Linked DNA regions of Homo sapiens: regions 1, 2, 4 and 5 are each linked to region 3. Evidence: fine-mapped expression QTL. A gene starts in region 3. Each other region holds a variant in brackets. All regions are shown on one strand. Distances are between the middles of the regions. Region 1 overlaps STAM2 (signal transducing adaptor molecule 2). Region 2 overlaps CACNB4 (calcium voltage-gated channel auxiliary subunit beta 4). Region 3 holds the start of STAM2 (signal transducing adaptor molecule 2). Region 4 overlaps FMNL2 (formin like 2). Region 5 has its middle 48 kb from the start of RBM43.

Evidence for each region. PIP is the estimated chance that this variant, and not a neighbour inherited with it, causes the effect. A credible set is the group of variants that fine-mapping cannot tell apart.
Region 1: its variant is the best candidate, but not a certain one, in a credible set for the expression of STAM2 in whole blood (TOPMed, PIP 0.54).
Region 2: its variant is the best candidate, but not a certain one, in a credible set for the expression of STAM2 in substantia nigra (GTEx, PIP 0.61).
Region 4: its variant is the best candidate, but not a certain one, in a credible set for the expression of STAM2 in left ventricle (GTEx, PIP 0.71).
Region 5: its variant is the best candidate, but not a certain one, in a credible set for the expression of STAM2 in caudate (GTEx, PIP 0.68).

The regions. Positions count from the first base shown.
Region 1 is chr2:152,137,614-152,142,721 of GRCh38, forward strand. All of the region lies in intron 7 of STAM2 (signal transducing adaptor molecule 2), which reads right to left. Among named protein-coding and RNA genes, the nearest start is that of STAM2, 36 kb to the right of the region's middle. The variant C/T (reference allele first, on the strand shown) is at 2,847.
Region 2 is chr2:151,953,379-151,958,486 of GRCh38, forward strand. All of the region lies in intron 2 of CACNB4 (calcium voltage-gated channel auxiliary subunit beta 4), which reads right to left. Among named protein-coding and RNA genes, the nearest start is that of ARL5A, 130 kb to the left of the region's middle. The variant T/C (reference allele first, on the strand shown) is at 1,960.
Region 3 is chr2:152,173,740-152,178,847 of GRCh38, forward strand. STAM2 (signal transducing adaptor molecule 2) reads right to left here and starts at 2,024. Exons shown (of 14, transcript NM_005843.6): 1 at 1,864-2,024. The coding sequence starts at 1,903. It overlaps LOC105373689 (a long non-coding RNA gene), which reads left to right and starts at 1,794. Exons shown (of 3, transcript XR_923477.3): 1 at 1,794-2,818. RefSeq lists enhancers at 1,562-1,611, 1,662-1,801, 1,962-2,485, 1,962-2,381.
Region 4 is chr2:152,371,455-152,376,562 of GRCh38, forward strand. The region is part of intron 1 of FMNL2 (formin like 2); the gene reads left to right. Among named protein-coding and RNA genes, the nearest start is that of FMNL2, 39 kb to the left of the region's middle. The variant T/A (reference allele first, on the strand shown) is at 2,658.
Region 5 is chr2:151,210,852-151,215,959 of GRCh38, forward strand. No RefSeq gene overlaps it. Among named protein-coding and RNA genes, the nearest start is that of RBM43, 48 kb to the right of the region's middle. The variant C/A (reference allele first, on the strand shown) is at 3,031.

The sequences.
Region 1 (5,108 bases), 36 kb before region 3:
TTCCCCTATGCAATCAAATTTGGCAATCTTTTCTTTCATGGCTTATGCTTTTACCCTTTTCTACCCTTAAACTCCTAAATCTATTCTCCTATATACTTAACTGTAGTTTTAGTTTTTTTATTTTTTTTTTCCCTCTCCCATGTTTAGGTCTTTAATTCATTTGGAATGAAATTTTAATGTACTATGTGAAACTGATCAAAATTTTATCTGTAGTATAAAAAGAGCCATTCATCACAGCAAAATTTATTAAATAGTCCACCATTTTTTCTAGTAATTTATAATACCCTACCTTTCAAACAGTAATCTATTCATGAGCCTATTTCTAGACTCCATTCTGTTGCAATAGTCCATGTATCTGTTCACACATCTTGTTAATGTACCTTAATATCTGCCAGGGAAAATACCCTTTCTATGTTACTCTTTCTCATTTATTGCACACCTTCAAATTTCCACATTAATATTAAATTACTTTTCAAGTTCTCTGGGGAAAAAGTCCTGTTGGGATTTGAACTGGAAATGCACTGAAATTATGCAATAATATAAGAAAAAAGAAATCTTTGCAATATTAAGGTTTCTTCCCTATGAACATGGTATCCTCCATTTACATTTATGTAAAACATAATATGTAAAAATATATTTATATTCTTTTATAGCTTTCAAATAATTTTATAATTTAATCCATAAAGACCTTACATATCTTTGTTAGGCTTATTCATTTCTAGATCATTTATATAATTTTTGTTACTACTGAGAATGACTTTTTTTTACTACATTTTCTAAAAAGTTGTAATTAAAGCATACTACTGAGTTTTGTATGTTGAGCTTGTATCCAACAACCTTTATGAACTCCTACCACTTGTAATAGTTTATCCATCGGACTCTTGAACTTTCTATATGGAAAATCATAGTATCTGGAAATAATGATAATTTTATCTATTCCTTTCCAAAAATCTGACTTATTGAATAGACATTCTTAAGTATGAGTCTTATGGATGAATTAATGTCTATGATTATGAAACATCATTTCATTTATGAGCACTAGAAAGAGACGAAAGAGTTATATATCATCCAAGTTCTTAAAGCCAGAAAATAACTGATGTATTGATGTACTGACAGTTCTAAGATATCATATCTGCAAATATCTATGGAAGATAGGAAAAATTTTCTTTCTCTTACAAACACATTTTTAAGTTAACTTTTCATTTTGAAAAGGAGAGCTGAACTTGAGAAATTTTTGTATAAAACGAGAAAACCCAAACCTGTGAAATGGATGCAAGCGTTTTATATGAACCTACCAACAACTGTATGTGTGTACCCTTCCTTAGTGGTTCTACCAATATAGGATAATTTTCCTCCCAGCCACTACTACAAACTCTTTGATGAAGCATAAAAGTAGGCAAAGCAACCAAATTGACAACTCCTTCCCAGCCCTAATCCAGCTCTATATTCTCTCCACTGACTACAAGTTGATTCTATGGAATGTTGATAGCAAAAAAACATTGTTCAAGCTTAAATTCTCAAATTAAAGAAATTGGCACTCTAATTTTACACAAACCATTTAATAATTAAAGAAAATTTTAATGTAGCATTTATATTTAGAGCTTTTTATATTAAAAAAAGAATAAATCACAACTGAGTGAAAAACAAAAAATGATACAAGTGTAAAGAACATAAACCTCACCTTCAACAAACATTATTCAGCTAACATTTATGAAAACCTACCATGGAGAAAATAGTACCTTCAGGCTAAGCACTGAAATTACAAAGATAATTAAGACACCATTTGTGCCCTCAAGAAGTTTAAAATCTAGCACAAAGCTGTAGTCCCAGCTACCCAGGAGGCTGAGGGAGGAGGCCTGCTTGAGGCCAGGAGTCCAGGCTGTAGCGTGCTATGCTCACGCCTGTGAATAACCACTGCACTCCAGCCTCGGTAACCCAGTCATACCCTATCTATAAAAACAAGAAAAAAAAATCTAGCAGTGTTTTACAATCTCTCCTACAGAACTGACTAAAAATATGTTATCTTGCTTTACCTTCAGAATTTTTCTCCTTTCTCCTTCCTCCCACCCAAGGAAGTCATGAGCCTCTTCAGAATCAACTGATTTAGTAGAGAGACATACGTAAAGAAGCGCAGTTTGCCCTCTGTATCTGGCAAGTGCTACATCCATGGACTCAACAAACCCCAAATCAAAAGTATTCATGAAAGATAAACAAAAATGACAATAGAACAACAAAAAAAATTTTTAATACAATATATTGTATTTAAAAATACAATATAATGATTTGCATAGCATTTACATTGTATCAGGTACTATAAGTTATCTAGAGATAATTTAAAGTATACAGGAAGATGTGTGTAAGTTATATGCAAATATGACGCCATTTTATATCGAAGACTTGCATCTGTGGATTTTGGTATCAACAGGGGTTCTGGAACCAACTCTCTAAGGAACTGAGAAATGACTCTATTTAAAATACAGTATGAGAAATGCTGTTACATATGTTCAGAGAGCTATAGCTCAAAGAAGAGAACTCTTAACTCCACTGGGAGCTAAAAAGCAGAGAAAGGTTGAAAGGCTTCTCAGAGGATATAAAATCTGACACGGGTTTTGAAGGTTAAGTAGGCACTTGCCAGGAGGAAAAGAAAATTAAGTCTGTGGAAATAAAAATGACATTTTGCCCTCCTGCCATTATTGATAAGCAAGAAAACAAGGCACGAACAAACAAAAAACTCTGCACTCTGAGATAAAACAAAAAATGTTACCATATTTAGTTTTAGGTCTCAAAGTACATAAAAACTTGAGCCTTTCCTTTTAACTACTGATTTCTTAACAAAAAGTACTCAC[C/T]TGCTAACTTTTGCAATGACAATGACTGAAGGTAGTGATGTCCTTTATGGATATAATTATCACGTGAGAAAACTGCTATTTCTACCATGAACATATAAATAGCAAACCTGGAAAAACCTGGTAACCTTGTGGGGGTCTTTTCCTTAAAATACCTGTTTTACTTTTTAACATGGGGAGGCAACTTTTCTAAAGCCTGGACTCCCTTGCAAACTGTCCTTGAAAGTAAAGTTCTTTTCCTTTTCTAAATGCTTTTACCTCCTTCAGCAGGGCTTTCCAGGCAGACAGAACCAAAGGTGCAATGCTACAGAGGACTAAGCAGAAAATGGCATTTTTGGAACTGCAAGAATTCCACTTGATTATTTGAAATGGTACACAGAAAACAAACATGGAGTGGGCCAGGCACAGTGGCTCACGCCTGTAATCCCAGCACTGTGGGAGGCTGAGGCGGGTGGATCACTTGAGGCCAGGAGTTTGAGACCAGCCTGGCCAACATGATTAAACCCTGTCTCTACCCCTAAAAATACAAAAAATTAGCCGGGCATGGTGGTGCACACCTGAATTCCCAGCTACTCAGGAGGTTGAGGTGGGAGAATTGCTTGAACCTGGGAGGTGGAGGTTGCAGTGAGCCAAGATCACGCCATTGCACTCCAGCCTGGGCGACAGAGTGAGACCCTGTCTCAAAAAAAAAAAAAAAAAGAAAAGAAAAGAAACATGGAGTGGTAAGATAAAGCTAAAAGTGTAGAAAGTAAAACGCTTTTCTTGATATACTCCATTAATAAAAAATGTGCGCCTTTGGGCCGGCACAGTGGCTCACGCCTGTAATCCCAGCACTTTGGGAGGCCGAGATGGGCAGATTACCTGAGGTCAGGAGTTTGAGATCAGCCTGGCCAACATGGCGAAACCCTCTCTACTAAAAATACAAAAATTAGCTGGGCATGGTGGCGCATGCCTGTAATCCCAGCTCCTGGGGAGGCTGAGGCAGGAGAATCACTTGAACACAGGGGGCGGGGGTTGCAGTGAGCTGAGATGGCACCACTGCACTCCAGCCTGGGCGATAAAGCAAGACTCTGTCTCAAATAAATAAATAAGAAATGTGCACCTTTTCTATCAGCTCAATGTTTTTTTGTTTGTTTGTTTGTTTGTTTTTTTGAGACAGAGTCTCGCTCTGTCGCCCAGGCTGGAGTGCAATGGCACGATCTCGGCTCACTGCAACCTCCGCCTCCCGGGTTCCAGCGATTCTCCTGCCTCAGCCTCCCAAGTAGCTGGGACTACAGGCGTGCGCCACCATGCACGGCTAATTTTTGTATTTTTAGTAGAGACAGGGTTTCACCATATTGACCAGGGTGGTCTCGAACTCCTGACCTCGTGATCCGCCCGCCTCAGCCTCCCAAAGTGCTGGGATTACAGGTGTTAGCCACCACGCCCTGCCAGCTCCATGGTTCTTAAATGGAGATCCAAGAATGATATATTTTCAAGGGACTTCAAGGGACTTCTGTGTGTGAAAATTTTATGCTTCAAATTCCACAAAAGTATAAAAACAATGAATAGAGTCATTTTCTGGATGACTTCCTTTTAACCGAAGACTGTCATTTAACTTTAGCATGCAAGTTTGCATTTGTCTACCAGCGATTACCAATCACCTAAAATGACAATATTTTACCCATAAGCATGCTTACAGCAACTATAAAAGTAGGGTGTCCTATCGTCAAAATGACAGCAATTGACCTACAAATTCCATCACATTCATGTTGAATTCTCTTAGCAGTTACAAATAAAAAAGTTCTTTTTTGAGGTGATAAATCTTAACTGAAAATTGTTTTGTGAGCAGTAATTTATTTTAGAAAATTTTGTTATATAAAGTAATGCTCTAAATTAAAATCTTAGACAAAACCACTCATTTTGTTTTTATTTTATAAATATCTTTAACTTCATAGTTGTATAAGAGTATCAAAACGGTAAACCTAAGTTCTTTTGTAAGTACTCTAACTAAAAGACACTCATAAGCCTGACATTTCAGACTGTCAGTGTTCAGAGCCCACACTATCTCTCCATCTTTACAGACAGTGTCAAACTCATGATGGCATGACTTACGATGGTGCAAAAGTGATACACACTCAGATACCCATAAACCATTCTGGTTTTTACTTTCAGTACAGTATTCAATAAGTTACATGAGATATTCAATACTTTATTATAATAAATAGGTTTTGTGTTAGATGATTTTGCCCAACTGTAGGCTAATATAAGTTGAGAAACATCTGT
Region 2 (5,108 bases), 220 kb before region 3:
TCTCCTTTCAAGCCCTCCAACTCCTCCCTTCCCTGTTTTAGGAAGACAGTCTAGAGTAGGACACTTGGGTTCAAATCCTGGCTTGTCTTCTAGCTGTATGACCCTGGACGAATCATATGACTTTTTTTATGCCTAGAAAATGTGTGACAAAAATATCTACATCATAAGGTCATTGTGAAAATTAAGGGAAAGAATTTGTGTGGAGCACAATTGTCCAAATCCAAACAGTTAGTAAACGGAAAGCATTGTAAGTCCAGTTCTTTTTACAAACACAAAGTCCATCCTCTTACTCTATGCTCCCTCCTGGTGGTTTCAAATGCACAGATCTCCTCCTGATTTCACTCTAAGAATTTTTCTACTAGGAATATTTTCTATTTCTATGACTCTTTTAAGAGTTATCATCTCTAGCACAGTGTTGGAAGTTCCATAGGTACTTGTGAACTTTTCATTTAGATGCTCAGAAAAGAATGCATCTGTAAACAGTCCTTTGGTAACACTCTGACAAACGTGTTCACCCCACATGAAGGCCATCAATAGATATATCCAGGATTAATTTACAAAGCTCAGATGTCTTTACAACAAATTCTATCTGTCTTTTGAACAAATATGTCAACATATCTTCACAGTAAGAACTTAAGGAAGTCACCCAGATGCCTCCCATCTTAACATGAATGACCATGGGGATACAAGGACACATACCTGTGGAAGGGATCTGCCATCTACCTCTTGCAACTGTGACCAGGGTTATCAGTGTGTCCCTGAAGCAACAACCGCAGCTTCACTATAATGTACACTCTGCCTCTCCAACCTTCAGCAAGCTCCTCGTTCTAAACCAGAGTGGCATGGTTTATTACTACCAAAGGAGACCGTCCTATTCCTTAGTTCTTTTCAACATCACACAAAAATTAAGGCTATGAATTAATAGAGTAATTTTATTTAGGCAGAATTATTTCCAAGGAATGTTTCATAAGCAGCTCATAAAGAACAAACTGGGATGATTTGCTTAATTCTGTCATCCATGGGGAAATGTCTGAAGAGCAGATTTTATAGAGAAATTTTCATTGCCAAGAGTGAGAAAAACTAAAATATCTTTGTTCTGTTTCAAATTATTGTACCTTTATGTGTCTGATTTCCTGAAATTTGTTGTTTGTTTGTTTCCATTTGGCTTTAGAGATTAACATGAGAAAGTTCATTTGCGGGGTTCATTCAAATAACTAACCTTGCCTGAAAAGTCACAGAGATTTCGGATATGGCCATCACAGACATAATAACTCTGATAATAATACAGTCACTAAATTATGATCTGAACTTGGAAATAAAAGAGAAGAAGTTGAAAGAATCCTATTTTCAAGACAATATATCTGAATATGTCCTTGCAAATGAGAACAAGAAGAAATAAAGAAACTATGATACACAGACAAGATTATTTCTAAATAGAATGCCTTTCAGCATTTACTGTGACAAGTCAGCACTTTTTTTTTTTTTTTTTTTTTGAGATGGAGTCTCGCTCTGTTGTCTGGGCTGGAGTGCAGTGGGGCGATCTCAGCTCACTGCAAGCTCCGCCTCCCAGGTTCATGCCATTCTCCCGCCTCAGCCTCCCGAGTAGCTGGGACTACAGGCACCCGCCACGATGCCCAGCTAATTTTTTTTGTATTTTTAGTAGAGACAGGGTTTCACTGTGTTAGCCAGGATGGTCTCGATCTCCTGACCTTGTGATCCGCCCACCTCAGCCTCCCAAAGTGCTGGGATTACAGGCGTGAGCCACCGTGCCCAGCCAACAAGTCAGCAACTTTTAAATAAGCACCTCACAATTTCAGAGCTGCACCTGGTTTAATTAATTACACTCGTCATTTCCTCACTGGTTGGTGCAAACCATTCCCATCTTACTATGCACTGAGAACATCAATATCATAGAGCTATAGCATTCATCCACTCATTCAATATTAACTTATTGTGTAT[T/C]ATTGTGCTATGTCTTTTTTAATTCATTCTCTACCCTTGCATAGTTGGAGTTGAGGGAAGGAAGGCAGAAAAGAATGGTAAGACTTGATCCTTGCCCTCTAGAGTCCTATGTTTGCAGAAATAAGATGCAGACACATGAAATGGTGAAGAAGCCATCCAAGACTGCAGGTGGCTAATGCCCAAGTGAATGGGGCAGATGCTGCTATGGGAATTCAGAAGAGGCTGGAAAAGCAGAGGAACCTCATAGAAGAAGTGGAATAAGAGTTGGACTTTGATTGGGTGCAGTGGCTCACATCTGTAATCCCAGCACTTTGGGAGGCTGAGGCGGGAGGCTGAGGTGGGAGGCTTGCTTGGGCCCAGGAGTTTGAACCAGCCCCGGCAACATAGTGAGACCCCATCTCCACAAAATAAAAAATTAGCCAGGTGTGGTGGTACACGCCTGCAGTCTCAGCTACCCAGGAAGCTAAGGTGGGAGGATTGCTTGAGCCCAAGATGTCAAGGCTGCAGTGAGCCATGATTGCACTACTGCCCTCCATCCTGGGCCAACAGAGCAAGGCACGGTCTCAAAAATAAAAAATAGAAAAAAAAAAAAAGAATTAGACTTTGAGCAATTCAAAGTCTATAAAGTCTATAAAGAGGATGTGGGAGAAGAGAGATTCTCAAAAGGAGGGAGTAATGTCCACAATTTTTGTACTTGAGACTGAGCATTGCTTACTCGTACAAACTGACAAGAGCAGGATTATATGGAAATAGCTGAGATATGGCCATTCAGGCCAGTGGAGTGGGATTCTAAAACACCTTGTATCTTCGATATACTTGTAGTATACATCAAATTATTAAAGATGACGCATTTTGATGTGACTGGTGAAGAAATTTATGATCCACACATACCCAAGAACTTGTGCATGAATGTTCACAGCAGCATTATTCATAACAGCCACAAAGTGGAAACAGCCCAAATGTCCATCAATGGATGAATGGATAAAATGTGATATATCCATGTAATGGAATAATATTTGGCAATACAAAGAAATGAAATGCTGATAAAAGCTGCAACATGGATGGATCCTGAAAACATTATGCTAAGTGAAAGAAGCCTACAAAAGGCTGTCTATTGTGTGGTTCCCAATGTACGAAATATCCAGAAGAGGCAAATGCACAAACACACCCTAGGGCTGAGAGAGTTGGAAGGAGATGGGGAGTGGCTGCTAATAGGTATGAGTTTTCTTTTTGGGGTGATTAAAATGTTCTAAATTGGTCGTGGTGATGATTGTAGTTGTACCACTCTGAATATAGTAAAACCCCTGAATTGTACACTTTAAACGGCTGAATTCCTTGGTATGTGAATTATATGCAGTGAAGCTGTTATTAAAGAAACAAACTATCAAGTGTTTACTCTAGGGAATAGGGTCTAGGATTGTAGGCGAGGAGGGAGACTAACACTACCACCAATTATTTTTACAATCAATATAGCTGAGTGTCTCATCATATTCTGGCTCTTTTAAGAATACAGACCTTTTAATTTCCAGCCGGGCACAGTGGCTCATGCCTGTAATCCTAGCACTGTGGGAGACCAAGGCGGTGGATCACCTGAGGTCAGGAGTTCAAGACCAGCCTGACCAACAAGGCGAAACCCAGTCTCTATTAAAAATACAAAAATTAGCCGTTAGCTGGGCGTGGTGATGCATGCTTGTAATCCCAGCTACTTGGGAGGCTGAGGCAGGAGAATCACTTGAACCTGGGAAATGGAGGTTGCAGTGAGCCGAGATCGTGCCACTGCACTCCAGCCTGGGCAACAGAGTCAGACTCCATCTCAAAAAAAAGAAAGAATATAGGCCTTTTAATTTCCTAAACCTGCTAACCCCCAATTTTAAATTCACTTTGATTTTTTCAAAGAAAAAAAAAGTAGAGTGGCTGGGCGTGTGTGTGTGTGTGTGTGTGTGTGTGTGTGTGTGTGTGTGTGTCCCTTGGGAATCCCTGATAAAATATATTGTGTTCAATCATTTCTGACCATTCCCTAGATTCCTCTTGATTCCTGGAGGAATTAAAGTTATTGAATTTCAATTCATTCCAACAACCATTTATTGAGTGCCCATCTTGAGGCAAGCAAGGGTAGGGTAAGGATAGGGAGATGAATAAACCAATTACATTTTATTTAAAGAAAGACATTCATACTTCAAAGTGCTTACCACCCCAAATAAGTGGACAAGAAGCTAAAAGAACAGGGAAACTAAGTGCTGTGTGCACTGTCACAAACTCTCGAGCTGACCAAGACAATAATTTGACCCAGTATTTCTCAAAGAATTTACATGAAAGTGATTTGGGGAGCGTTTGCCAAAAATATGAATCCTAAGCCTTACTCCAAACTAACTGAATCAAAGTCTCCTAAGAGGGAGGCCCCAGAAATATATATACTGTATCTATTTAACGTTAACTTCACTCTGTCCCACAAAATCCTTCCAGTCTACAACACTGAGATGGTTTGCAGTGATTATGAGGCCTGGTGTAAATAACTAAACCAGCATTTCCCTAATTGTATTCTGTAGTATACTAGTTATTCAAGTACTTAATAGGTATTCTTTAGGGAAAAAAATGGATTCTGAGATCAAGTAGGTTTGGAATATCTTGGGGTTAAATAAAATTTAATTGGTTTATTTATTGTGGAATGCTAACAGATATTAGTGGGCTACTGGGTGCTGTGAATCTTTTGAGAAAGGGACGGAGTATGGTGATTATCAAGCTTATTTGACTAGGGACCTGTTTTTTTCACATGTATCAACAGGCGCATAAATTAATGGCTAGAAACTCATCTACCACATATAAGAAGTATGAGAGACTCTGGAAAATGTTACAATCTACTTCTAAATAGAAAAAGAAATATTTAATGTAAAAGGATAATATATGGCAAGCTTCCTCTATAGTTTCCAAACATGGCATAATAGGGTATATGAGGATAGGTACAGGCCCGGAACAGATAGAGCCATAACCGATTATTTGGCAGCAAGTTCCTGGTAACCGGGAGTCCCAGCTGTCTAGAACGAAACTATTTCATGATCTTGGGATGAAGTCAGTAACTTTCTTAGCCAGAAACCAATGGCTAAAGGGTTGAGGCCTTCAATCCGGGACCTGGCTTCTAACCTGAGATCCCC
Region 3 (5,108 bases):
TAAAAACGTAATATATAATTTTTCTTCTATGATATACGTGCAAGTCCAATTTGAGCTCTTTAGTATTTCATTCTACTTTTTCTAATTCCATTCTCTTGTCCAGAAGTTACAGGAGGGCCTCAAATTCATTCTTTCACCCTTAAAATGCCTTTGGGGTTCTGAATTCAGTCATGCTTAAGCTAATATGTAACTACTTGAAGCTCTGGCTTATGGCACTGGCCATAAAATAATCTAGACACAGTTTTTTTGTTTGTTTGTTTTTTTAATCTCAACAGCAGTGCCTCCTTTACAACTGTAGGACTAAACTGTGATCCACTAAACCAATGCTGGGGCCTCGGGAGCCAGGCAGGGAAAGGTTTAGAACAGAACAGACAGAGCAACTCTGCCTACTTGTACCAGAGAATTTTTCCATCAGAAAACAATGAACTTTCAAGAAAAATTTATATTGAAGAAAAGAATTCACGGTTTTTAAGTTTTAAAATCATTTGTCTAATTCTATTTTGCGCCTTCTGTTTTATTTCATTAGAACAGAATCAAAGTGTTCATAATAGCAATTTTTTAAAAGTACAGGTTGCACAAAGGTTGTATGATTCAAACAAAAGAATACTGCAATGAGGCGTTCCAAAAGGAAACAGTGAGCCTTAAGAGTGATGTTTCCCAGATTTACGCCAGTCACCTGTATTCATCCACCAAAAAAAAAGTTTAATGAAGTAAGGAACATACATATTTGAACTATTTACATATATTATTTGACTCAAACATGTTTTTTAAAATGGCTTAGGGGATTACACAACGTATCAGAATAGGGCACTTTCTACAGTCTCCTAATAACCAAATGTTAACTATGAAACAGGGGAATTACTGCTGAGATGTGCAGTATTCTTCTGAGTCTCCCCGCCCCAACCCCATTTCCAAGTTCTAAAAATTTACCTAGGGTTCTGTTAACTACTGCTACAAAAACAAACAAAAAACAAACCTGTAGTCCCAGCTACTCGGGAAGGGGAAACGGAGGTGGAGGCTGAGGTGGGAGGAATTCTAGTCGCACCTGGGCAACATAGTGAGACCCAGACTTTCGAGAATACATACATATATTTCTCAGTTTGTTTTAGTGTTACTCAAATTTCCTAAATAATTTCGTATATATCTTATCCATGTTTTTCTCATTCTATAGTCACTGAGAGACCAGCGCTTTATGACTGCAACATGTAAAATACTTGTTGTTCTGGAGTGTTTTGAGACTGGAGATTTCCTTTTCATACTCTAAAACCGAACATCTCCTAGCACCCGCGCAATCTTTGCAATCCGGGGATGAAGAGCAACACCTTTACAATTGTAATAAATCTTAAAGCTACCCTATCAGGGATTGAATGCATGAGTAATATAAATAATGGGGAAGTAAGTTCTTCCTATTCAATGCGGTTGTCTAGGTGTCAAGTGTCTAGTGTTGGGCTTCTCTAGACAGCAGGGTCTCCACTGCTGCATCATCTTCAGAAAACGATGGGGCAAAGACGGAGGTAACCAGCTGTCGAACGAGCAGGAAGTTTTTAATCACCAACTCCACAACTACTTAATCAGTCCAGTCTCCAGCGAGCCCTAGGCTCTTCCCAAATCCTACGCTTGGCAAGGAGAACGGCCCTTTGAGGGTCCCCAAACTCAGGCGGCAGGAAGCACTCCCCAGACCGCTAGCGACGCGCCGAGGTTGCCCCAGAAAAATCCCAACGTCGAAGGAGCGGGCGGCACCGCCCCTCCCCTCCCTTCGCTTTGCTTCCTAGTCCCCGGAGTCGCTACCGCCCACTTTCTAGCCGGACAAACAGCAGTCCAGGGCCAGGCACACAGCAGTCCAGGACCGGGCACAGCACTCACCCACGTCTTGCTCGAAGGGGTTGGCGGTGAACAAAGGCATCTCGCCGGCGCCCGAGCCCTAGTCGCTGCTGTCTAGCTGACACTCAGCAACTGCTACCCGCCGGGTGACCCGCGGCCGCGGCTCCCTAGACCGCTCCGCTTCGGCCTCCGTCCCTGCACTTCCGCCACCGCACCTGCCCGGCTCTTGCCTGACAGGCCGGCTCGGAGTCCACCCTTCGATCCCGCGCTCCTGTCCCAACTTTTCTCCCGGGGCGAGATCCCTCCGACCATGGGCGTCCTCCCAAGGCCTTTGTCGCTGCCCCTGTCCCAGACTTTTGTAGGGGTCAGGCGGCCGCTACGGCCACCTTTCCAGCGCTAGGACCCCGGCTAGCCACGAAGCCGGGGACCTTCGGAGCCGGAAGTAGTCCCGCCTGGAACTGGACGACCCCGGAAGCTGCAGTGCCAGCGGCGGCGCGGCAGGGGGCGCGGTTACCCGTGGTTTTTCGCGTTGGACGACGGGCTCTGAGGGCCAAGTTCTTGTCACGAATTTAGTTTGTTTCAGAGCGGCAGGACTCGTAGCTAGAGAACGAGGACCCACGACGCGTACGCGTTACAGTCCTGTTTCCCTAGAAACGGAGCTGCCGGCGCGGAGGTGGCTTTGAGATTCTGCGAAAGACCTGACTGCTCTTCAACAATTATTGTGTTGCACCCTCCCAGGCGCCCAGTCCAAACCCCGTCAGAATAACCACCCGGGACAGCGGTGGTCGAAGTAACTACGCCTAACTTTTCGCTTTCCATCGTGTCCCCTCCATAAAAACACTGCTGGGCCCCCGGAATCCAAAGGCGAAGGAGGCACACTCCCTGCCTTAGACTTGTTGAGAGTTTTATAGGGGCAGTGCATAACGTACATGATGGTGTATGACGATTCGGATGGTAGTACGAGTCATAAACTCAAATTCCAACAGCATCCAGCCAGGTATTTAAATGAATGCAAAAGCCCAAGCACCCTTCCCACCCACATATTCTCTGTTCCTCTTAGAAAACTGTAGTAATGATTATGTTGCCTGTCTCTCCTCCTCATTAGATTATAAACTCCCTGATAAGTTTTGGTCACTACTATATCCCCAGCGTCTAAAACAGTGTCCCAAGTAATAGACGCTCAATGCTTTTCGAATGAAGCTGTAACTTTCTAACTGAACAGTGCGTATCTAAAGATGTCAACTACTGGTAAATTGCAGCCATTTATTGAAATGTGGGTCCTACTAGAGTTTGCAATTTTTCAATGATGTTTAAATGTTGAGAATTACTCCAACATTTTAAATAATAGATTAATCAAAACCATTTTACAAACTCTAGTATAAAGACCTGATGCTATAGAGAGCTCATACACATTCAGAAAGGTGGTTGCATTTTATAAAGTTCGGGGCACAAATGAGAAGGAATCGTGCAGAAGGGGCTGTTTTTCATAGAACGTTGAACCTAGGGATGTTCAAGATAAATTGGGAGGCCGGGCATGGTGGCTCACGCATGTAATCCCAGCACTTTGGGAGGCCAAGGCGGGCAGACTGCTTGAGGCCAGGAGTTCAAGACCAGACTGGCTAACATGGCGAAAAACCGTCTCTACTAAAAATACAAAAATTAGCCAGGCATGGTGGCGCAAGCCTGTAATGCCAACTTCTTGGGAGGCTGAGGCACGAGAATCACTTGAGCCCAGGAGGCAGAGGTTACAGTGAGCCAAGATCAGGCAACTGCACTCCAGCCTGGGCAACAGAGCAAGACTCTGTCTCGAAAAAAGAAAAAAAAAAAAGACTTAGAGATTTTTTGGACAGATAAAGACTTTTTGTCTAAGACTTAGTGTTGGAATGGAAAACAAGGCTGACTAGGTATAAGAGGAAACAGATTGACAAGAATTTTAAAGGGCAAGCTGGGAATTTTTTATTTTGATTAAGGCACTCAATAATTATTTAAGGATATTGGGTAGCAGAATAGTAAAAAAAAATTTTTTTTGAGATGGAGTCTCACTCTGTTACCCAGACTGGAGTGCAGTGGCGCGATTTGGGCTCACTGCAAGCTCCGCCTCCTGGGTTCACACCATTCTCCTGCCTCAGGAGAATGGCCAAAACTGGCCATAGACAAAATCTCTGCAGCACTGTGACATGTTCGTGATGGCCATAATGCCCACGCTGGAAGGTTGTGGGTTTACTGGAATGAGGGCAAGGAACCCCTGGCCCTTCCAGGGTGGAAAACCACTTAAAGGCCTTCTTATGCCACAAACAATAGCATGAGTGATCTGTGCCTTAAGGACATGCTCCTGCTGCAGTTAACTAGCCCAACCTATTCCTTTAATTCGGCGCATCCCTTCGTTTCCCTTAAGGGATACTTTTAGTTAATTTAATATCTGTAGAAACAATGCTAATGACTGGCTTGCTGTTAATAAATACGTGGGTAAATCTCTCTTCGGGGCTCTCAGCTCTGAAGGCTGTGAGACCCCTGATTTCCCACTTCACACCTCTATATTTCTATGTGTGTGTCTTTAATTCCTCTAGCGCCGCTAGGTTAGGCTCTCCCCGACCGAGCTGGTCTCGGCAGCCCTTGTTGAAGGAATACTTATGGCAATGGTGATCACCGCTATGGTAGCTACCATTAAATTACTCGTTGTGATTGGTTGTCCCGCTTTCCTCAGGTTTTCTTCTGCCATCTGTGACAGCTTCTTGGTCTGTCCCCAGGTGGGTGGCTGTGTTTGATGGGTATAGCTCACGACAGTTGGGGTCCTTCTCAGTGTCAGTCTCAACATGGCTGCAACCGGGGGGGGGGGTCCTTGGGATCCTCCCAGAATCTCTTCCTTGGCATCTGGCTAATGATAAGGTTTCAGGTGTCTTGATGGTATCCAAATCGGCTGTTGATTTTGGCCTGGAGAAATACAGCATAACCTCTACCCCAAGTTATTATTTTACCTATTTCCCAACTTTTTGTTACCGGATCTCTCCACCAAATCAGTTGTTCTGCTTCTGTCTTTGCATCTGGTTTCTGTAGATGCTGTTCAGCTGCTGATAACATCTGGCCTTCTTTGGGCAGGCTCAAAACATTTAAAGTTAATAATGCTAGATTCAATTGTGTATGGGCTGTCCCATAATCCCTATTTCTCCCCCTTTTTTGTTTTTGTCATTAGTTGTTTATCTGTATGAAATAGTAACAGCATTTTTAATTAATTGTGTGGAATGAACCACGTATGAAGCAGCAGAAATGACATTAATAGGCATATTAAA
Region 4 (5,108 bases), 200 kb after region 3:
GTTCAGGAGATTGAAACCATCCTGGCCAACATGGTGAATCCCTATCTCTACTAAAAGTACAAAAATTAGCTGGGCGTGGTGCCATGTGCCTGTAGTCCCAGCTACTTGGGAAGCTGAGGCAGGAGAATCGCTTGAACCTGGGAGGCAGAGGTTGCAGTGAGCAGAGATTGCGCCACTGCACTCCAGCCTGGGTGACAGAGTGAGACTCTGTCTCAAAAAAAAAAAAAAAAAAAAAGAAAGAAATGTAATCCCTAATGTGGTGGTATTGATAAGTGGGGTCCTGAGGGTTTTGCCTTCATGCATGAATTGATCCATTCATGAATTAATGGGTTATCATGGGAGTGAGACTGGTGGTTTTCTAGGAAGAGGAAGAGAGACATGAGCTAGCAGACTTAGCCCCCTCACCTTGCGATGGCCTGTACCACCTCAGGACTCTGTAGAAAGTCCCCACCAGCAAGAAAGCCCTCACCAGATGTGGGCCCTCCACCTTGAACTTCCCAGCCTCCATAACTACAAGAAATAAATTCCCTTTCTTTATAAATTACCCAGTTTCAGATATCTTATTATGAGCAACAGAAAATAAATGGAGCCAGGTGACACTACAGCTTCTTTAAGCTCACATGTCGGGTGTAGTATATGGAAGATAAGAGTCCTCAATTTGGTGGGGAGAAATCATACATCTCAGGGTAAGGATTTTTCCGTTGCTAATAAAGGTATTTTAGTCGATATAAATACAAGTACTATTTGGCATGCATTATTAGCCTGTTACCTTTGTTGAGCACTAAGAGTACTCTGTAGGTAGGTAAATTATAGTTAGAGGTCCATCTAAGGAGAGTCTAATTTAGCATTTGTGTCAGATTTATGTTTCCTAATGTGTTGATTATATGGAAGGTTCTTTTGGAAATTTGGTTAGTTGCCTGCCTTCAGATAGCTACATAAATTGCACAGCATGCACCATAGGTGCATTCTTTATATGGTTCATGGGAGGATTTGGTTTATTTTTAGAGTTTGACATAGGGTTCTTTGGGAGAAAGTTTGTTACTGCATCTGGGAAAAGATCCTCTTGGTGATGCATCTTCATCTCACCCATTTATTCTTGGGATGCTTTCTGTGTGTTAATGGAGGGTTTTCACTGCATTGTGCTCATGAAGGGCCTTGAACTCCCCCTTTGTGCTTTAACCTTGGCAGGGTCTGTATGGCTGACCTTGCACTTCTGAGAACTTCTCTGCAGTTCCCTTTGGGCGGCCTGAACATTGGCTGTTTAATACCAATTAAAAGCAAGGGCTGTTCCTCTCAGTGGATTGCTATTAATTACAGCCCGTGTTCCAGTAATCTGAGACAGAGCAGCTTCCTCTGGTTTCATTGAAGGCTACTTTAGCTCTCTGTTTTGGTTGGCTGATAAAAATCTGAGAGGCACATACTGATTTGGAATAGGAAGAGTATTCTGACCCCAAGAAGAGGTATCTGGGAGTTGGAAGATGAGTGCTCTGTTCTTATCGTGTCTTTGGGTTAGGTGGGGCATATAAGGGAACATGGTGAAATCAAACAGTCCTGGACCCATGTCAGAGATCAGGGTTCTAGTTCCAGCCTTAACACTAACAGGTTGTGTAACTTGGAACTAATCATTTCATCTCTTCCTATACCAGTTTACTGGGTTTAAACAAAGTTATCTTGATTGTCCCTTCTGTGTCTAAAATTTTGCTAAAAATTGGTTACTGTTCTTATAAATGATATGAAATATTATGAGACTATTCAAGGTTAATTCTTTAACTTGAGATTTTAAGAATCAGTTTTTTAAAATAAGTTTTTTTGGGCATTTAATGGTATGGGTGAAGTCTGGTGGTCCCTGATGATTGGTTTAGTTACTGGGATATTTTCTCCATGAACAGTTGGGGGGAGTTTTAGTTTGTGCCAGAATGTAGATAGAAGGGTATATTTGGGTTTGGTGTTTCTGAAGCACTTTAGTTCAATGAGATTTTGAAGGAAATCCCTGGATAGAGATTATAGTCATCCCTTGGGTTCTGGGGGATTGGTCTCAGGACCTCCTGTGGATACCAAAATCCATGGGTGTTCAAGTCTCTGATATAAAGTGGCATATTGTTTGCATCTGACCCATGCACATCCGCCCTTATACTTTAAATCACCTATAGATTATCTATAATTCCTAACGCAATGTCTACACATCACTTCATTCTTGTGGATTCAACGTAGTACTTGGCATGTGGCAAATTCAAGTTTTGGTTTCTGGAACCTTGTGGAAATTTTTTTTTTTTCCTGAATATTTTGTATCCCTGCTTTGTTGAATCCGCAGATGTGGAACCCATGGATACAGAAGGCTGACTGTATTTTTTTTTTTAAACTCTCAGAAATCTGGGATGTAAGAGTTCAACTCGATTCATGAAGCATAATTTATTACTATTTTTTTTTTGCACTAGAAATCAGAACACATTAATGGTTGAAGGTTTTTTGGCTTTGAGAAGAGGCTAGGAGGTGTTCTTTGCATACAAAACAGTAGATTTTCCTGTATGTTGTGATTGGTTATATGGGCAGAGGAAAAGAATATTTGAAACTATGGTTGATCTGTGTAATTCTAGGCATATGGAGGCTTTGCCTTTAGGTACTTTTCGCCTTCAGACTGCTCTTAAGGGTAGGAAACA[T/A]CTCAGTTATGTATGTAATAATCATTAAATGAATGTTCCCAAATGAATAAAGAGACTTAATAACAGGTGTAGCGTTAAAAGAGAGGCTGCAAAGGGGAATCCTTCACCCTAAATTCCAAATTCCAAAGTGGAAGAATAACCACTCTGGGGTGGGAGTGTTATTTTCTCAAGTGCTAAAAGGGAGATATGAACTATCCTGCTTGGCCTGTGGGAGAGGGTCATGGTTATTAGGGTTGGGTAATATTTTTGTTACAAATGTGTAGAAGAATGTCATTAATTGTGGCCTTTAGCACGCAGATTTTCTTGATCAGATAATACCTTGACAACTCCAGACAAGTGACTGCTAATCTTGTGTCAGTTGTAAATATGTGTTTGGAAGGTGATATTGAACCAGTGGGTTATTTCAGTCAAGATGTTTGAAAAAGAGGTATACATCAAATGAAAATGACGCGGATTATGGAAAAGTCTTAATTTTAATGGCTTAAAAAAATTCTGCATTAAACCCGAAAAACTAGAGACATAGACCAGCTGGGAGGTACTATGAGAAACTGCTTTACAAATGATTTTCTGTGGAACCCTGTCACCAGCATTTAGTGAAACATGCTTTCCATTTGAATATGCATTTAGATGAGGCCAACTGGCTGCTAGATCATCGTCTAATGGGCCTGTGATCCCACATGAAGATTATTTTCCCTTTGGTCCTAGAACCACTCTCCATCCTGCTCACCCTTATAGACTATATGAGAGGGTCCCTAGGTCTCACTTTCAGGTGGGCTCAGCCAGTGGAAATCAGAGAGGTGTGAGTTCGTGGTATGTATTTTGTCCCTGCTCCCTGCTAGGCTGTCCTGATGCATTTAGACTGAGGTGGTCACTGCTTTTCACTGGTGCTATTGAACTGGAACTATAGTTTCCCATTGGTGAGATGTTGTTACTACAGTTTTTCACATACATGTATATTTCACATACATATATTTTAATTTTTTACATTTATTGTTTCTCCAGTGAGTTAAAGCCTTAGAGGATTGAGTTTACTTTTAGCACCTAAGAATACTACTACCTTTTCATGGAGGAAGATCATTGAAACTGTAAGAGTTTGCAGTTACAGAAGCAGTATCCTCTCTGGAGCACTGAACAGGTGTTGGGGGCCAGAGGATTCAAGCCCTGTCCACCATTCCCTGCTGAGCACCTTCTCTACCAGCAGTAGCTCTTCAGCCTCTGAAGGCATGGCGGAGGCCTGGAGTAGGGCCCTGCCAACCTTGAATGCTCATGCCTGGTAGGTTATGAGGATTAAGTTACATAAGATTGTATGTGCTTAAAATAGGAGTTGGCATAGAACAAGTACTCCTTGATTTTGATCTGGTCTAATTCATTCATATTTAGGATGAAAAAATGGTAGCAATGTTAAGTTTAATTCAGATGACAAGACTTACTAAAAGGTCTTTCTGATACCTCATCTATACATATAGTATTCTACTCTGTGTAGATCATCTAAAATTTCTATAAGTTGGAGATGATCTTGGCTTTTCTGTTTTAAGATTACAATGAAAGACAGTGAAATCTGCAGCTGAATTTAGGGAAGACTCCTTGAAAACATCATCAGTTGGCTTTCTCATTTGGAATACAAATGGACAGTTGTATCCTCCTGCCATTGCTTTGTTATGATTATCTAGGAGTTTTCTTATTTTTTTAAAATGTGACTTTATAGACATTTCAAGTACTATAACATTTAGCCATTGAAGCTCTCTCTCTCTCTCTCTCTCTCTCTCTATATATATATATATATATAATTATTATTATTTTTTGAGACAGTCTTGCTTAGTCCTCCAGGCTGTAGTGCAGTGATGTGATCTCTGCTCACCCCAACCTCTGCTTCCCAGGTTCAAGCGATTCTCGTGCCTCAGCCTCCCAAGTAGCTGGGATTACAGGCATGTACCACCACGCCCAGCTAAGTTTTGTATTTTTAGTAGAGACGGGGTTTCACCATGTTGGCCAGGCTGGCCTTGAACTCCTGGCCTCAAGTGATCCAACCCCCCTTGACCTCCCAAAGTGCTGGGATTACAGGCATGAGCCACTGTGTCCAGCCACTATAATTGATTTTTAGTAAATTCTGTGGAATATACAGCATTTTATTTTTCGATTCATCAGTTGGTGGACGTTTAAATTGCTTCTACTTTCTGGCTATTATGAATAATGCTGCTGTGAGCATTCTTATACACGTTTTTGTGTGGACATATGTTTTCTTAGGAGCTACTCTTACTTTGTTGCTAGCTGAGGCTTCTAGGACTGGGATCCTTCGAACACTGCATGTACCTATAATACTCTTGGAGGAGAGGAGGATTCCTCTGAAGTCAGAAATATCCTCCCTGGAGAATTCTGCAAGGAGTTGGATGGACTCATTGGGGCCGAGGAAGGAGCTTTGAGCCAGGGATGTCTCAGGAATGTGAGAGTTGA
Region 5 (5,108 bases), 960 kb before region 3:
CACCCTCAGGGAAGTGGAGCCTAACTCCCAACTTCAAGTGTAGGCTGCACATCGTGACTTCCAACAAGTACAGCAAGCAAACGGGGGAAAGAGTAACTTGACAGTGGAGAAACCTGATAAACACACCTAAGCGAGGTGCTCCTGGTAAACGTCAAGAGTGATAAGTCATGTGGATAGCATGCGCCCTTAATAGGATGTGATGAGACTGGCACTTTACCTCCTCAAAACCCATAATCCCAGCCTAATCATCAGAAAAACATCAGGCAAATCTCAGTTGAGGGGCATTCTACAAAATGCCTGACCAGTACTCCTTGAAATTGTCAGGGTCATCAAAAACAAGGAAAGTTTGTGAAACTGTCATAATCAGGAGGAGCCTAAGGAGTTGTGATGTCTAAGTGTAATGTGGTCTCCTGGATGGGAAACTGGAGCAGAAAAAGGACTTTAGGTAAAAACTCAGGAAATGTGAATAAAGCATGGACTTTAGTTCATAATGATGTATCCATACTGGTTCCTATATTGTGACAAACATGCTATACTAATGTAAAATGTTGATAATAGGGCAAACTGGGCATGGACTAATGAGAACTCTGTACTGTCTTCACACTGTTTTGTAAATCTGAAACTATTCCACAATTAAAATGTATTTAAAGATAACAAAAAGGAAATACAGATAAATGAGCTGATGTATTTTTTTTTTGTTTTTTGTTTTCTGTTTTTGAGATGCAGTCTCACTGTTTTGCCCAGGCTGGAGTGCAGTGTCATGATCTCAGCTCACTGCAACCTCCACCTCCTAGGTTCAAGCAATTCTCCTGCCTCAGCCTCCTGAGTAGCTGTGATTACAGGCACGCACCACCATGCCCGGCTAAGTTTTATATTTTTAGTAGAGACAGAGTTTCACCATGTTGGCCAAGCTGGTCTGGAACTCCTAACCTCAAGTGGTCCACCTGCCTCAGCCTCCCAAAGTGCTGTGATTACAGGCATGAGCCACTGTGCCGGGCCTGAACTGACGTTATTTCTGCAATGCTACTCAGCAAACAAAGTGATAAAGTAGAGCCTTGACACTTACAAATTTAATAGTCATTGGATACCTTGATTAATAAATTAGCTGGGCAAATAATTTTAAATTGGAGATCATTTTCTATTATAATTTTGAAGACATTTCTCCATTATCTTAGAGTTTCCAGCATTGCTGTTGCAATATTGATGCCATTCTAACTTTGAATTCTTTTTTATCTCTCTTTGTAAAAAAAACATAAAATAAAATTGGTAGAGTTCCCTTATTGTCCCTGGTGTCCTGAGATTTCATCATGCTGCACCATTGTGCAGTGAATGAGGTGGACCCTTCAACCAAGAAATTCATGTGCTTCAGTTCTGCATAATTTTTGTAATTATTTTGTTGATGAATTCCTCTCCTCTATTTTATCTGTTTTCTCTTTGTAAAATTCCTATTATTTTGGATTTTAGGTTTCCTGACGTTGTGCTCTAATTTTCTTATCTTTTTTCTCTCATTTTTCATCCTTTTTCTCTTTTTTCCACTTTCTGAGAAATTATTCAGCTTTACATTTCAACCATTCTTTCAGGTTTTCCCAACAACTCTTTGTTTTTGTTTTTACTGATCTTTTTGTTACAATTATTCTATTCTTGCTTCCTGTATGGAATCTCCTATTCTCTGAGGTTTTGTTTTGTTTTTGTTTTTGTTTTCAGATAGAGTCCCTTCTGTTGCCCAGGCTGGAGTACAGTGGCGCGATCTCGGCTCTCTGCAACCTCCACTGCCCGGGTTCAAGCGATTCTCCTGCCTCAGCCTCACAAGTAGCTAGGAATACAGGCACACGCCACCATGCCCAGCTAATTTTTGTGTTTTTAGTAGAGACGCGGTTTCGCCATGTTGGCCAAGCTGGTCTTGAACTCCTGACCTCAGGTAATCTGCCTGCCTCAGCCTCCCAAAATGCTGGGATTACAGGCATGAGCCACCATGACCGGCCTTCTCTGAGGTTTTAAGTGATAGTTTTTGTAAAGTTATCTTATCCCTGAGTTGTTTGGTGTTTTATGTTGTTTACTACATACAAGAAGCTTTGCTCTGATGCCTGATAATTGCAGATTGTCTGTACATACTTAAGAGTGAAGCTTTACAAGTCGATTAAAACCTGGAATATTTTATATTAAATAAAAAAGGAAATCTTGTCACATGCTATACAACAAGGATGCAACTTGAGGACATTATGCTAAGTGAAATAAGCCAGTCACAGAAGGGCAAATATTGTATGAGTCCACTTATGCAAGAGATCTGAAGTGGTCAAACTCATAGAAACAGAAGTGTGGTGGTTTCCAGGGAAGAGGGGGAAATGGGAGTTGTTCAATAAGCATACAGTTTCAGGTTTGCAGGATGAAAATGTTCTGGAGATCTGTCACACAGCAATGTGAATATTCTGAAATACTTACTGAACTCTACACTTAAAAATGGTTAAGATGAAAAATTTCATGTGTTTTTTTACCACAATTAAATTTGTTTACATTTATTAAAAAGTTGATTAGAAGTTTTGAGCACAAAGGTGGGGCTGTTTTGCCATGGGCTCCAGTTCCAAGCGATGAGGACAGCTATTTCCCTAAGGAATCCCTAGCGTTAATGTCATTAGGTCTCTCCTCTTGGAAAGCCATGGGCTGCTGAGATTCCCCAGAGAATGATCATCCGAATTCCTCTCCTATAGGGTATGGGACTGGCTGCTGGCTTTCTGTGAGGTTTGTAGGGAAAGACAGTGATTCAGTGATTTCAGAATTGAGTATACAAATTTTACCTTCTTCCCTGCCTTCAGTATGGGCCCCTGTCCTCAATTGTGCTTGGAATCCTTTCTACGTTACCCCTTCCATGTTACATTTCCTGGGAATATAGCTTCAATCTTCTTCCATGATGATGGAAGAGCAAGCCGTCATACAACTCTGTAGAATCGGGACGCAGGCCTAGGGAGCTTAACTGCTTCTGAAAGAAATCAGACTACTTTCTTTGCACTTACAGAGGTATCCGCTCTAATTAAG[C/A]CTTAGGGATTCAACTCAGTGTAAATCAATTTGTTTCTCAACTTTCTCCACTGCTTAGTGAGGATTCAGTCATGTCAGATCTGCTTAATCAATTACCACTTTCCCATCTACTTATCAATTTTCAAAATTTTATTCATTTTCTCTCCCATTCTCTTGTCCTCAAGTGTTTATGCCTTAAAAAAAAAAAAAAAAAAAAAGTTTAGGCCGGGCGCAGGGGCTCATGCCTGTAATCCCAGCACTTTGGGAGGTTGAGGCAGGTGGTTCATTTGAGGTCAGGAGTTTGCGACCAGCCTGGCCAACATGGAGAAACCCTGCCTCTACTAAAAACACAAAAACAATTAGCTGAGCCTGGTGGTACACGCCTATAATCTTAGCTACTTGGGAGGCTGGTGGGAGGCAGGTGGGAGGACCGCTTAAACCTGGGAGGTGAAGGTTGCAGTAAGCCAAGATTGCACCACTGTACTCCAGCCTGGGTGACAGAGCAAGACTCCGTCTCAAAAAAAAAAAAAGTTTAGATTAGAGGGGCTTAGGGTTCGACAAGAGGGTGATAGCTATTGCCTATATTCATCCACCATCTTTACCCAGAAAAGTTGGCTTGTTTTCTATAATTTCAGACTTAATAACTAATTTCTTGGTTGGAGGTGATGTAGTGGAAAGTATCAGAAATTTAGAATCAGTCAACGTGAGCCAGATTCTGGATCTGCCATTTTCTTGTGTGACCACAAGTTAACTAGCTTCTCATATCAGTTTCTCTGTTTATAAAATGAAGATGTTAACACATAGGCTTCTTCTGAGGATAAAGTGAAAAAAACATATGAAAGTCATATGTAAAATAACATATGTAAATCTCATGTAAAACTTAATGCTTGCTTAATAAATACTCTTCTTTCCGTTCCAATATTAGTTGTTCAATTTACCTTCCACTAGCAACTGTAACATTCTGGTAATAACCTCATTCTGGGCTCAGTTTCTACAATATTATTCAAATCACACTAGCCATCCTCTACTGGCTGTACTTGCCACCTTGAGATCTGCTGTCCGATTACGACATTCAGTCTCAATTGGGTGCTGTGTCATTTTGTTGGAATAAGTGCAAATTTTAAATTTTAAAAAAATTCAAAAATGAATGCATTACTTTTGAGTCATTTAATCAAATCTACTTTTACCTTACTATTGATATTTCCAAAATTTCCCTTAAAAAGTAAAATGGACTTTGGTTAGATATCAAGATCTGGACAATTGTGTAGAACTTTAACCATCTGAGCCCAGAGTTTTGTTCATACCCTTGGAGATGCAAAGCAGCTGGTTACTGTCCTCATGTTATTACATTTTCTCCTAACCCACTCAGTGATAACATACCAAACCATCTGCAGCAAAAACATGCCAAGGTTTTACAACAAACTGGGCACTAAGCATTGCTCCATATAGACCATCAAGAAATTCACAAATCAGTGGCTTAAAGACTTTATTAAATTTACAAATATTTCTTGAGTACCTACTATGTTCCACTAATTGTCATAGGTATTTGGGATACACGAGTCAAAGAAACACATTTAAATCAAGAATCCTTGCATTCATAGAGCTTATATTTTAGTGAAAGAGATAGACAATAAACACAATAAGTAAGTTATAAAGTGTGTGTTTTTTAAATAGAGCAGGGAAAGAGGATCAGAACTGCTAGAAGAGGTATTGCAATTAAAATAGACAAGATTTCTTATGTACTCCAGAGATCACCACTAAATCAGTGATAGTTGTTTGGTCACAAGTAACAAACAACTTTAAACAGAACATGAATATATTAGGTAGATATCAGGGGACATACAAAATTGATAGCAATACCAGAGAAACAAGTCGAAAAAAGGTTAGGAATCAGGGTAGCTCCAAAGCAAGTGGAATTAATCAACATTCTCCACACCTACCATCACTGGAACGAATAATCTCCTAGCATCTCGTACCCTTTCTGCATTGCTCCAATCAAGACTGGAAGTTCCAGGAGCATCTGATTAACCAAGCTGGAGTCACTTGCCTGCTTAGTGGGTAGACAATCCCAAAAAGAAAATTTCCAGAGGGAGAGTTAA